Linked DNA regions of Homo sapiens: regions 2 and 3 are each linked to region 1. Evidence: fine-mapped expression QTL. A gene starts in region 1. Each other region holds a variant in brackets. All regions are shown on one strand. Distances are between the middles of the regions. Region 1 holds the start of ATP6V0B (ATPase H+ transporting V0 subunit b). Region 2 overlaps ST3GAL3 (ST3 beta-galactoside alpha-2,3-sialyltransferase 3). Region 3 overlaps ST3GAL3 (ST3 beta-galactoside alpha-2,3-sialyltransferase 3).

Evidence for each region. PIP is the estimated chance that this variant, and not a neighbour inherited with it, causes the effect.
Region 2: its variant is the best candidate, but not a certain one, in a credible set for the expression of ATP6V0B in whole blood (TOPMed, PIP 0.84).
Region 3: its variant is the best candidate, but not a certain one, in a credible set for the expression of ATP6V0B in atrial appendage (GTEx, PIP 0.84).

Annotation. Positions count from the first base shown.
Region 1 is chr1:43,973,778-43,976,277 of GRCh38, forward strand. ATP6V0B (ATPase H+ transporting V0 subunit b) reads left to right here and starts at 1,183. Exons shown (of 8, transcript NM_004047.5): 1 at 1,183-1,330; 2 at 2,023-2,071; 3 at 2,313-2,396. The coding sequence starts at 1,264. It overlaps LOC124904167 (a long non-coding RNA gene), which reads right to left and starts at 1,088. Exons shown (of 2, transcript XR_007066053.1): 1 at 666-1,088; 2 at 1-110. RefSeq lists enhancers at 336-1,169, 752-871, 922-971, 1,170-2,002 and silencers at 1,222-1,271, 1,672-1,721.
Region 2 is chr1:43,897,412-43,899,911 of GRCh38, forward strand. ST3GAL3 (ST3 beta-galactoside alpha-2,3-sialyltransferase 3) reads left to right here. Exons shown (of 12, transcript NM_006279.5): 7 at 824-887; 8 at 1,757-1,852; 9 at 2,130-2,316. Among named protein-coding and RNA genes, the nearest start is that of ARTN, 35 kb to the right of the region's middle. RefSeq lists an enhancer at 2,272-2,500. The variant A/G (reference allele first, on the strand shown) is at 1,065.
Region 3 is chr1:43,717,905-43,720,744 of GRCh38, forward strand. The region is part of intron 1 of ST3GAL3 (ST3 beta-galactoside alpha-2,3-sialyltransferase 3); the gene reads left to right. ST3GAL3-AS1 (ST3GAL3 antisense RNA 1) reads right to left here. Exons shown (of 4, transcript NR_125986.1): 2 at 2,567-2,647; 3 at 1,090-1,222. Among named protein-coding and RNA genes, the nearest start is that of ST3GAL3-AS1, 8.0 kb to the right of the region's middle. The variant T/C (reference allele first, on the strand shown) is at 1,472.

The DNA of each region.
Region 1 (2,500 bases):
TTGAGAATCTGGTCACAGTGGCATTGTCGAGGGTATTGAAGGTGAACAAAGGAGATGTGGTCCCTGCCCTCAGGGAATGCCTAGTCTAATGGTGGAGGCAGAGCTGTAAGCTAACAAGGTAACCCAGACAAAGTGGGCATCAGTCATGTGTTCTACAAATATGTACTGAGGACACACTCTGTGCCAGGTACTGGAAATACAGCAGTGAGCGACACAAAAGCCATGGTGCTTCCACTCTTCCAGGGGAGTTGGACAAATAAAATACTTAGTATGCCAAATGGTGATCAGTAAGTACCGTGAGAAATGTAAAGCTGGGAAGCAGAGGAGCGTTTAAGTGGGGTGGAATATTAAACAGAATGGTCAGAGAAGGCCTTTTCAAGAAGGTGAGCAAAAACTGAAAGGAAGTTACAGGATGAGCCGCATGTATAGTTAGGAGAAGCAGAGAGAGCAAGTGCAAGGGCAGTGAGGTCGCGGTATGGTTGGCACGTTCAAAGAAATAGCAAGGAGGGCAGTGCAGCCAGAGGAGGGAGTTAGTGGGGGAATATTAGAAGGTGAAGTCAGCTGAGGGGCGTGGGGAGCCTAGCAGGCTATTGTGAGAACTTTGGCTTTTCTCCTGAATGAAATGGGAGCCATCAGGGCATTTCGACAGGGTAGTGACATCTTACTGAAGCTTAATAAGCATCACCAGGACATCGCGGGAGCCCAGCAAACGCGCTTCCCTGCCACTGGGTTAGGGAAGGCTTGCCGGAAGGACGATTTCGGAGGACAGCAGGTGTTAGCCAGGCAGCGGAGCGAGCGCCAACAGGCGCACTGGGGCGGAGAGACGCCGTGAGCAAGGTGAGGCAGAGGGCACGCGCGGCGCCACCCGCCACAGGCTAGGACGCACGGCTGCCAGAGAGGACGCCTTAGGGGCCCGCGAGCAGGCTCGGGAATAAAACAGGGCTGGCAGGGCGAGGTGGAGAGACTCGAGAAGGACCGGCCAGATGTCGAAGTTCCTAGAGAGGAGGGCGCCCAAGCCTCCGCCGAGACGCGTGACTACAACTACCACAATCCCCAGCGCCTGCGGTTCCAGCGTCGCCTTGCTCTAGACGGGCGGCGGCGCTGCGCGGGGAACCGGCGTGGGGTCACGTGGTACCGGCGCATCACGTGGGCGAGTTAGGTGACGCTGCGGGGCGGGCGGACAGACTGCGGGACGGACGGTGGACGCTGGGACGCGTTTGTAGCTCCGGCCCCGCCGTTCCGACCCCCGCCGCCGTCGCCGCCATGACGGGGCTAGCACTGCTCTACTCCGGGGTCTTCGTGGCCTTCTGGGCCTGCGCGCTGGCCGTGGGTGAGGCCGGGTCCTGGCGGGCGGGAGCAGCATCGCGGCCGAGCTGGCCGGGTCGGAACTCGGCGGGGAAGTGGCCTGCGGGGAATACTGGCCCCCCGCGCGCTCTGCACCCGAGGCTCTGGGGACTTGCGCCTGCGAGGGCCTCTGACTCCGACAAAGGAGACCCGGATTTCCAGCTGCTTGAGGAGGGGTGCGGGCGGGTAGGGGCCGCGAGGGCAGCACTCCCCCGTCCTGCCACTATCGCTGTCTCCCCTCGCTCCCACGTCTCACTGCTGTCCCCCCTTTCTTGCTCCTGACCGGCCCGCTCGGTCACAAGCCGGCTGCTCCGGTTCCTCTTTTCCCAGTCGCTTTGCCCTCCCCCACCCACAGCTTGTTGGGTAAACAGCGGAACGGACTGGGCCGGCGGGATCTGGCTGGAGCGCTTGCTCCCTCGGTCCCGCCTCGGATTCGGGCTTGCGGGTGGCGACCCTGCCTGCGCAGGTGCTTGGTCTGGGAGGTGGTTTTAGCGAGGGAATGGCAGAAAATGGAGGCCTAAGCAGAGGAATCTGTCTACACAGCTGTACTGTCACCTGGGGGCAGCCTGAGGACGCCCCTTCAGGGAGGTGGCCCTTCAGCTCGGCAGCTACTTTAGGTTGAAGAACTTCTCTCTACCGAGCAGCCCGTAACCCCCTTTTTCTCCCTCACTGCTGCAGGAGTCTGCTACACCATTTTTGATTTGGGCTTCCGCTTTGATGTGGCATGGTAAGGGAGGGCAGGGGGAGGATTCCCCTTGAAGCTTCTTCCCTGCAGCCTCTCTTCTTTTCTCTGGTCTGAGTCCCTCCCCCACACCACTGCCTGCCTGGGACATGGACCTTTGGGAAATACGCGGTCAGTTGTTGCCTGTAGAACTGGTGGTGGGGTTGAAGGGGGTTTGAGGGGTTAAGATTTTGTGCTCCGCTTCCCTGCTAGAGCTGAACTGCTTTCTTCTCTGCTTCCACAACAGGTTCCTGACGGAGACTTCGCCCTTCATGTGGTCCAACCTGGGCATTGGCCTAGCTATCTCCCTGTCTGTGGTTGGGGCAGCCTGGTGAGTATTGGGGTGGTGGGACTGGGGGCAGGGGCTGAGTCATGGCAGGTGGTGTCACTGGGGTCTTAGGCATGCTGAGGGCAGTGACAGCTTGGGCTCTGCTC
Region 2 (2,500 bases), 76 kb before region 1:
ATGATTTATATAAGGTCACAGAGCACAGCCAGTATTTGACTCCAAAGCCAATACCCTTGCTATTCACTATACATCATATTATAGTGCTCTCATGATACCAGAGTTTGGAAGAGCAGTCCTTATTGCCAAAGCCAGAGAGAGGCCAAGGAGATGAGGTCTAAATAGTGGGCACAGGTCTGAGAGCACAGAAGTCATGGGGGTCTTTGCTGAATGGAGTGCAGGTGGGCAGAGCCAGGCTCAGGGAGTAAAGAGGTGAGGAGGTAAAGACAGCCTGGCAAAGAGCAGGATTCAGGATTGGCAATGTGAGAGGGAGGAAGTGAGGGAAAGGTGATGTCAGATAATGAGGCACGTGGTGAGCTCTTCAGTTGCTGGGTGTCTCCTCATTTGTTTCCTGGTATCTGCTGGGTGGGAGCACAGAGATAAGTACAAGGTGGTCTCTAGCTCTGAGCAGGTACTCCCATTCCAGGGAGACTGCGTGCGCCAGCTTCCAGGGAAGGCCCTGGCCTGGGAATGCATGTCCTGGGGCCTGACTACAGAGCCTCAGAAAACCAGATGAGCCTCCCAGAAGCCTGGGAGAGAAGCTGCGTGCCAGTGTTAGGGACGGGCTCCCGGCAGTGATATGCCTGTCTGTTTCCTGCCATCACCTCCTTTCTCAGGAAGAAAGTCAGGGCAGTGGCCCAATACATCCTTGTGTCCAGAGCTCTCTCCACTTCCACTTTCACTCTAGCCCCTAGGGACTTGTGTCTTCCAGTAGGATTATCAGTAAACATTTTATAGAAAGGTAAGTGACCCTGTAACAGAAACCTCTCTCCTCTGTCTGCAGACAATCTGATCAAAGCCATCTTGTCAGTCACCAAAGAGTACCGCCTGACCCCTGCCTTGGACAGGTGAGCCACACACTGTGCAGCCTCCTACCCACCGCTGCCTGGTGGTGTGCAGAGGTGTTGAGGCCCAGCTGGCCTTCCCTGGACATGGGCAGTTTCTCCAGCACATCCACACATGCACATACAGTACACACACAGGGTGGGTGGAGCAGGTAAGTGGAACCACTCCACCTGACTTGC[A/G]CCCCCACGGGCTGTCAGCACTTGGCAGGACATCCCAGTCCTCAGATACCAGAGGTTTGAGGGTAAGAACTGAACACACTGGGGCTGGGACTAGCCCAGCAATGGGACTGAGGGCCTGGGTGGCGGGGGCAGGTGAAGGGGGCAAGGCTTAAGTCCAGAAGGCAGTGACAGCTCCCAAACCAACAGACCCTAGAGCAGGAAGCCCCAGGGTCAGGGATGGGAGAAGCAAGATGGGTAAGCTCTCTAGTGGCTGCTGGGAGCCTTGAGTCCTAGAGCCTCCTGTCCCGTTCCCCTTTTCTTGCTTTCCTGGTATAGCCCCAAGCTCGGCCCACTTTTCCCTCTCCCCTGAAGCCTGCCTAAACACCACTACCCCTTGGGGAACCTTTACCCTAGAATGTCATCTTACCAAAGCTCCCTCCTCACCACCCACGCCTGGCACCCAAGCCTTTCCATGGCCCTGTTTTCCTGGGGAAGTGTCAGGGCCTAGATAGAGATGCTGGAGAGTCTCAGGGCCCAGCTACCCATTGTATGGTTCAGGCCTTCTCTCAGAAATGCTGCCAGAAGCCCATTGGTCTTCTTCCTCTATCCCAGCCTGGTCCTGGACAAGGGCGTGGGGTCAAGGGCCAAAGGAGCAGGGAAAGAGACCTGGTGGGCAGCTCTCTGTACAGAGGTCTCCGCCTCTCTCCCCTCAGCCTCCGCTGCCGCCGCTGCATCATCGTGGGCAATGGAGGCGTTCTTGCCAACAAGTCTCTGGGGTCACGAATTGACGACTATGACATTGTGGTGAGGTGAGCTCCCCAAAATGGCACCTCGGGTGAGTGTCGTGGCCCCAACCCTTAGTCCTGAGCCCATTGAGAACTGTCTGTCTGGCTAGTTGGGCTGGAGGTCAACGGAAGCCTCAAGAACTCTGGGTTGGAGGGCTTTGGAACAGACAACTAGCGGGGGCACCTGGGGAGAATAGGTCCAGGTGACCTGGACTCCCTATTCTCCATGCCTGGGATAGTCTGGGGTCATGGTGCCTTCCCAAACACAGGCCCAGGCTCTGAGTGGGCCTGCTCTCTGTAGACTGAATTCAGCACCAGTGAAAGGCTTTGAGAAGGACGTGGGCAGCAAAACGACACTGCGCATCACCTACCCCGAGGGCGCCATGCAGCGGCCTGAGCAGTACGAGCGCGATTCTCTCTTTGTCCTCGCCGGCTTCAAGTGGCAGGACTTTAAGTGGTTGAAATACATCGTCTACAAGGAGAGAGTGGTAAGCTCTCCTGGCACCAGCTTCTTCCCCTCTTGCCCTGGGCTTCCGCAACTCCTAAGCAATCCCGCCCCTTGAATGCAGCAAAGAACGAGTAAGAACCTTCAAAGGAAACATTAATGACCCAAAGCCGAAATCACCCAATGGCAACCAGGGGGCAAAGAGGTCAGGAGATTGCCCGGGTTAC
Region 3 (2,840 bases), 260 kb before region 1:
TCTTGTTGCCCAGGCTAGAGTGCAATGGCATGACCTTGGCTTACTGCAACCTCCACCTCCCGGGTTCAAGCGATTCTCCTGCCTCAGCCTCCCGAGTAGCTGGGGTTACAGGCATGTGCCACCACACCCGGCTAATTTTTGTATTTTTAGTAGAGACAGGGTTTCTCCATGTTGATCAGGCTGGTCTTGAACTCTTGACCTCAGGTGATCTGCCTGCCTTGGCCTCCCAAAGTGTTGGGATTAGAGGCGTGAACCACCACGCCCGGCTCTATCATTAAATCTTTTTTTTTTTTTTTTTTTTTTGAGGCAGAGTCTTGCTCTGTCGCCCAGGCTGGAGTGCAGTGGCGCGATCTTGGCTCACTGCAAGCTATCCCTCCCTGGTTCACGCCATTCTCCTGCCTCAGCCTCCCGAGTAGCTGGGACTATAGGCGCCCGCCACCATGCCCAGCTAATTTTTTGTATTTTTAGTAGAGATGGGGTTTCACTGTGTTAGCCAGGATGGTCTCGATCTCCCGATCTCATGATCCGCCCGCCTCGGCCTCTCAAAGTGCTGGGATTACAGGCGTGAGCCACTGCGCCTGTCTATCATTAAATCTTAATATGCCATCTTGCTTGAGTTTTTTTTTATTTTTTAAATAAAGAGAACATTACATTTTTACTGAAAGCCTTCCTAATGTGTTTTTCCCTTCTTCTCCCTCCTTCAACAGAAAAAAGCCACTGTTTGAGTTAAAGGTGTTTAAAGTTCCCATACGTGTTTTTATCCTTCTGCTACATCTTTTTTTTTTTTTTTTTTTTTTTTTTAGGATGGAATCTTACTCTGTCACCCAGCCTGGAGTGCAGTGGAGTGATCTTGACTCACTGCAACCTCCACCTCCCAGGTTCACATGATTCTCCTGCCTCAGCCTCCCAAGTAGCTGAGATTACAGGGGCCCACCACCACGCTTGGTTAATTTTTGTATTTTTAGTAGAGACAAGGTTTCACCATGTTGGCCAGGCTGGTCTCAAACCCCTGACATCAGGTGATCTGCCTGCCTTGGCCTCCCAAAGTGTTGGGATTACAGGCGTGAGCCACCACACCAGGCCTCTTACCTGCTTCTAAAGGGAGTACCTGGCCAGTGACAAAGTATTTTTCAGCTTTACTCTTCTGTTCTCTGTTTTTAAAACCATTGTAGATCATTTGATTTCTACTCAGGAAGTCACTGACTACTCATCTTGCAGGAGTCTGGATCCAATTAAAAGAGAGAAATCACATGGTAATTTGAACAGATAAGGTTTAATGTAAGAATTACTTAACTATTACAGAGAATTGGCGTAATGCTAGATTGGCTAATAAGAAGTAAAGAAATAAGCACATAGAAAGAGGGTTAACATCATCAGCCTTCAGGGGAGTGTAGATCAAAACTACCATGAGATGCTACCTCACACTCTATGGTGGCTGGAATCAAAACAGCAGATAAGAATAAGCGGTGGC[T/C]TGGGGCCAGGCACGGTGGCTCATGCTTGTAATACTAGCACTTTGGGAGGCCGAGATGAGCGGATTGCCTGAGCTCAGGAGTTCGAGACCAGCCTGGGCAACATGTTGAAACCTCGTCTCTGCTAAAATACAAAAACAAATCAGGCGGGTGTGGTGGCGGGTGCCTGTAATCCCAGCTACATGGGAGGCCGAGGCACGAGAATTGCTTGAACCTGGGAGGCTGAGGTTGCAGTGAGCTAAGACCATGCCACTGCACTCCAGCCTGGGCAACAAAGTGAAACTCTGTCTCAAAAAAAAAAGAATAAGCGGTGGCTTGGGAGGCTGAGGTGGGCGGATCACTTGAGGTCAGGAGTTGGAGACCAGCCTGGCCAACATGGCGAAAGCCCGTCTCTACTAAAAATACAAAAATTAGCCGGGTATGGTGGCATATGCCTGTAATCCCAGCTACTCTGGAGGGTGAGGCAGGAGAATCACTTGAAACTGAGAGGCGGAGGTTTCAGTGAGCCGAGATCATGCCACTGCATTCCAGCCTGAGCAACAGAGCAAGACTCTGTCTCAGAAAAAAAAAAAAAAAAAAAAAAAAAAAAAGAATAAGCAGTGGCTCACACCTATAATCCCACCAGTTTGGGATTTGAAGTGGGAGGATTACTTGAGCCCAGGAGTTAGAGACCATCCTGTGCAACACAGTGAGACCCCATCTTTACAAAAAATAGAATAATTGGCTAGGCATGTAGTCCCAGCTGCTGAGGAAGCTGAAGCAGGAAGATCGCTTGAGCCTAGGAGGTTGCAGCTGCACTGAGCCAAGGTCATGACACTGCACTCCAGCCTGGACCGCAGAGTGATACCCTGTCTCTTAAAGAAAAAAAGAATAAGTGTTAGAGCTGGTGATGTGGAGAAATTGGAATGCTCATTCACTGCTGTTGGGAATGTAAAATGTGTAGCCACTTTGGGAAACACGCTGTCATTTCTTCAAGCAGTTAAACATAGAATTACCATACAACCAGTAGATGTCATTCTAGGTGTCCTAGTCCATTTTGTGTTACTATAACAATAGCTAAGACTGGATAATTTATAAAAAACAGATTTATTTCTTACAGTTTTGGAGGCTGGGTAGTCCAAGATCAAGGGGCTGGCATGTGGTGAGGGCCTCCTTGCTGTATCATCTCATGGCAGGACCTGGAAGGGCAAGAGAGAGTGAGGGAGAGAGAGAAAGAGACTGAACTCACAGCCTCAAGCCCTTTTATAATTGGCATTAATCCGTTCATGAGGGTGGAGCCCTCATGACCTAAATACCTCTCATTAGGCTTCACCTCCCAGCACTGTTGTATTGGAGATTAAGTTTCCAACACATGCTTTTTTGGGGGACATG